Linked DNA regions of Homo sapiens. The protein of the gene in region 1 purifies or fractionates together with the protein of each later gene. This does not show direct contact. Each region holds a gene or a part of one and is shown in the gene's direction. Other genes may lie near its edges.

Evidence for each region.
Region 2: the proteins of IL21R (region 1) and WSB2 purify together in Homo sapiens (affinity purification with western blotting; one study listed by BioGRID). This does not show direct contact.

What each region holds. Positions count from the first base shown.
Region 1 is NC_000016.10:27,447,174-27,449,857, forward strand, and holds part of IL21R (interleukin-21 receptor isoform 1 precursor), read left to right. Parts: intron 1-495; exon of another isoform or gene 496-1,360; coding exon 1,361-2,110; 3' UTR 2,111-2,684. UniProt on the Homo sapiens protein: This is a receptor for interleukin-21.
Region 2 is NC_000012.12:118,034,684-118,037,179, reverse strand, and holds part of WSB2 (WD repeat and SOCS box-containing protein 2), read left to right. Parts: intron 1-669; coding exon 670-842; intron 843-1,855; coding exon 1,856-1,966; intron 1,967-2,086; coding exon 2,087-2,194; intron 2,195-2,496. UniProt on the Homo sapiens protein: May be a substrate-recognition component of a SCF-like ECS (Elongin-Cullin-SOCS-box protein) E3 ubiquitin ligase complex which mediates the ubiquitination and subsequent proteasomal degradation of target proteins.

The sequences.
Region 1 (2,684 bases):
AAAGCTCAAATATCACATTGATTTTGGGTTGATTTTTACCAATACTCATATAGCACTTGCTATATACCAGGCAGTCCCCTAGGAGCATCACAAACAGTGACTCATTTAATCCTCACGACGGCCCTACGGGTGGGTGCTATTATTAGGTCCATTTTACAGATGAGGAAACTGAGGCACCGAGAGGGTAAGTAATTGGCTTAAGGGCACACAGCTGAGAAGCGACTTTGAATCAGTGGTGGTGGCCACATCACAGTTCTGAGATGAGTTTTTGAGGAAGATGAGCTCAAAACAGGGAGATACCCATTCCTGGGGATTTTCCTTGCCAATTGCATGAGGATTCTGGTGTCGTGAGTGGGAGTCCTGGCAGGGGAGGGAAGGGGAGGGTCCTTCAAGTTTAAGGGCCACCGCCTCAGCCAGCATCACCCACATCCTTTATCCTCAAAGTGTACAAAGGCCTTTCCAAGTGGCTTTTCATTGATCCACTCCACCCATTCATTTCGTTAATAAACATTTATTGAGCACCTACTTTGTGCTAGGCACTGGGGCTACAGCCATGGACAGAAGAGACAAGACTTATGTCCGGGGGCCAAGTGTCTGTCTGGTGGGGACACATAAACCAGGAGAGTGCTAGGTTTCAAGAAGCATCAAGGAGGCGGGAAAGCAGGAGATGGCTCAGGGGTACCTCAGACCTCAGGCCCTCCTGCCCCCATGTCTCCTTGACTCAGGAATCTTGGTCCCTGCCTGGACTATGGGGCCACCAGTTGTCTGACTGGTCACACTACTAAGGGTAGCAACTCCCTTCTACAAGTAGGGAAACTGAGGCCCAGAGTAGGAGGGGGATCCACTAGGGTGGGAGCACATTGTGGTCCTGATTCCTCTCTCTCTCTCTGTCTCTCGGTGTCTTTGTCTATCTTCATGTCTCTGTCTGTCTCTCTTGATGTCTCTTTGTCTTGTCTCTGTGTCTGTGTCTGTCTTTCTGTCTGTTTAAACCCTCACCTTGGCTGGGCACAGTGACTCACGCCTGTAATCCCAACACTTTGGGAGGCTGAGGCGGGTGGATCACCTGACGTCAGGAGTTCAAGATCAGTCTGGCCAACATGGTGAAACCACGTCTCTACTAAAAATACAAAAATTAGCCGGGTGTGGTGACAGGCGCCTGTAGTCCCAGCTACTTGGGAGGCTGAGGCAGGAGAATCACTTGATCCTGGGAGGCAGAGGTTGCAGTGAACCGAGATGGCACCACTGCATTCCAGCCTGGGCAGCAGAGCCAGACTGTCTCAAAAGAATAAAAGTAAAAGAAAAATAAACCCTCACCTTACCCTCATCCTGTGCTATGACTCTCTCTTTTTCTCTCTCACAGAAATGGGTGGGTGCACCCTTCACTGGCTCCAGCCTGGAGCTGGGACCCTGGAGCCCAGAGGTGCCCTCCACCCTGGAGGTGTACAGCTGCCACCCACCACGGAGCCCGGCCAAGAGGCTGCAGCTCACGGAGCTACAAGAACCAGCAGAGCTGGTGGAGTCTGACGGTGTGCCCAAGCCCAGCTTCTGGCCGACAGCCCAGAACTCGGGGGGCTCAGCTTACAGTGAGGAGAGGGATCGGCCATACGGCCTGGTGTCCATTGACACAGTGACTGTGCTAGATGCAGAGGGGCCATGCACCTGGCCCTGCAGCTGTGAGGATGACGGCTACCCAGCCCTGGACCTGGATGCTGGCCTGGAGCCCAGCCCAGGCCTAGAGGACCCACTCTTGGATGCAGGGACCACAGTCCTGTCCTGTGGCTGTGTCTCAGCTGGCAGCCCTGGGCTAGGAGGGCCCCTGGGAAGCCTCCTGGACAGACTAAAGCCACCCCTTGCAGATGGGGAGGACTGGGCTGGGGGACTGCCCTGGGGTGGCCGGTCACCTGGAGGGGTCTCAGAGAGTGAGGCGGGCTCACCCCTGGCCGGCCTGGATATGGACACGTTTGACAGTGGCTTTGTGGGCTCTGACTGCAGCAGCCCTGTGGAGTGTGACTTCACCAGCCCCGGGGACGAAGGACCCCCCCGGAGCTACCTCCGCCAGTGGGTGGTCATTCCTCCGCCACTTTCGAGCCCTGGACCCCAGGCCAGCTAATGAGGCTGACTGGATGTCCAGAGCTGGCCAGGCCACTGGGCCCTGAGCCAGAGACAAGGTCACCTGGGCTGTGATGTGAAGACACCTGCAGCCTTTGGTCTCCTGGATGGGCCTTTGAGCCTGATGTTTACAGTGTCTGTGTGTGTGTGTGCATATGTGTGTGTGTGCATATGCATGTGTGTGTGTGTGTGTGTCTTAGGTGCGCAGTGGCATGTCCACGTGTGTGTGTGATTGCACGTGCCTGTGGGCCTGGGATAATGCCCATGGTACTCCATGCATTCACCTGCCCTGTGCATGTCTGGACTCACGGAGCTCACCCATGTGCACAAGTGTGCACAGTAAACGTGTTTGTGGTCAACAGATGACAACAGCCGTCCTCCCTCCTAGGGTCTTGTGTTGCAAGTTGGTCCACAGCATCTCCGGGGCTTTGTGGGATCAGGGCATTGCCTGTGACTGAGGCGGAGCCCAGCCCTCCAGCGTCTGCCTCCAGGAGCTGCAAGAAGTCCATATTGTTCCTTATCACCTGCCAACAGGAAGCGAAAGGGGATGGAGTGAGCCCATGGTGACCTCGGGA
Region 2 (2,496 bases), on another chromosome or scaffold:
GAGACAGTCTTACTCTTTCGCCCAAGCTGGAGTGCAGTGACGTGATCTCAGGTCACTGCAACCTCCACCTACCAGGCTCAAGTGATTCTTCTGCCTCAACCTCCCAAATAGCTGGGCTTACAGGCGTGCACCACCATGCCTGGCTAATTTTTGTATTTTCAGTAGAGATGGGGTTTTGCCATGTTGACCAAGCTGGTCTTGAACTCCTGGCCTCATGTGATCCACCCACCTCAGCCACCCAAAGTGCTGAGATTACAGGCATGAGCCATCGTGCCTGGCCGCTGACATTTATTTTTAAGTGGAATAAGATAGCACTTGGCTCAGGTCTTCATCAGCACATACGACTACCCTATTGGCAAACAGGACTCAGAAGCAGACTCAGAAGTCTCTGCACATGCGTTTCAGCAGGGGTCTTCCTAAGGCTGATCTGGTTTATTCTCTCTTATAGTGAGCTCCTTGAGCATGCCCATTGTTTTAAATCCTCAAGAATCCAGACCAGTTGCCTTATTTAAACCTACACCACACGTTCTGGAAGAGCTGTAGAAAAGGGATAGAGAATCAGCCCTGGCTGCAGGGCCTGCAGATTTGGTGGTGGTACCTTTCCCTCCCTCCGTTTGAGTCCTAAGCACTTTGCTTCTGCCCTAACCAGGCACTTCTTACTTTCCACAGGTCTTTCTATGGAGCATGAGGTCCTACACGTTAATTCGGAAGCTAGAGGGCCATCAAAGCAGTGTTGTCTCTTGTGACTTCTCCCCCGACTCTGCCCTGCTTGTCACGGCTTCTTACGATACCAATGTGATTATGTGGGACCCCTACACCGGCGAAAGGCTGAGGTCACTCCAGTAAGGACTGAATCCCTGCTATGACTTTTTTGTGGGGGGACTGATGAGGAACCTGCCTGGGATTAGACATGTCTCTTTTAGAATCTGGGACATGGGAGGGGACAAGCTGGATAAAAAGGCACAGTGGGTCTCTTTTGAGACGGAGTCTCGCTCTGTCACCCAGGCTGGAGTGCAGTGGCGCAATCTTGGATCACTGCAACCTCCACCTCCCGGGTTCAAGCGATTCTGCTGCCTGAGCCTCCCGAGTAGCTAGGACTACAAGCGTGCGCCACCAGGCCTGGCTAATTTTTGTATTTTTATTAGAGATGGGGTTTCACCATGTTGGCCAGGCTAGTCTCAAACTCCTGACCTCAGGTGATCCACCGCCTCAGTCTCCCAAACTGCTATTATAGGCATGAGCCACTGCGCCTGGCCTGGTTCATTGCTTCTTAGTGATGCCTTGTCAATTAAGCCCTCTCAAGTAGCTTTGAGTGTCTTCCAGTCTCCTGATTCAGGTGGCTGTGTGTACTTCTTCGGAATCAGCATTATGAAGCCTCAATATGACTCTTTATTTCCATTTACTAATAACTGTAGTAACAAGTTCAGAAAGAGCCTCTTATCGAAACTGTGCTTTCCAAAATGAGTTTCATGTTCTCACAAACTTGGTCTCCTTTTTCCTTTTGTGTCTGTTGTTTTATGAAGCAAATAATAGGCAGTCCTATAATTATCATGTATCTTAGCCTAAAAAAGACTTGCAGTTTCTACTGTGGCATTAAAGTGAGGGCTGACCTACTTTGCATAAGCAAATTAGCACAAGGAAGTGTTAGTAACCCTTCATCCACAGGACACCTGGAGCCTTCTGAGATACCCTTTTTTTTCCCAGTGTGCAAATCCCAAGCTTTTCCACGAGGGGCACACAATGCATCTTGAGCCCTTTTGTAGCCAGGGCAGTTTGGCTTCCTGCCTAGGGTGATGATGGAGGGTGGAGAGCAGCCATCACTCCAGGCCTGCCATCCTGTTTCTTTCCTTCCCAGCCACACCCAGGTTGACCCCGCCATGGATGACAGTGACGTCCACATTAGCTCACTGAGATCTGTGTGCTTCTCTCCAGAAGGCTTGTACCTTGCCACGGTGGCAGATGACAGGTAACGAAGAGAACTCTCTTTACATGGCCTCAGAACAAGTGCTTGCAAGTAATGGCAGCAAGGCCCTCTTGGTCTGGCCCTGGGTCAGCTAATATCCAGATGTTCTCTCTCCCCATCCAGACTCCTCAGGATCTGGGCCCTGGAACTGAAAACTCCCATTGCATTTGCTCCTATGACCAATGGGCTTTGCTGCACATTTTTTCCACATGGTGGAGTCATTGCCACAGGGTATGTATTTGTTAGCTGAACAGATGGGTGGTGCTTTCTGCTGAGTATACCATGGAGCTTTTTAAGGAAAGAAACCATCTAGAATTTTCTTGCCTATGAGGAAAGCTTTAAGGCAATTCAAGATTATATAAAACTCAAATGATCGATTTTGCTAATAACGGTGTCCCATTTTCTCTGAATATTTAACCTAAATGTAATTAAAGATCTGTAAGTCATGCCACCTAATGGGCCAAGTTCACAAGGGAGAATAAAATTGAGATGATGCATAATATATGGGAAACCATTTAGGGCTAAAAGACCAC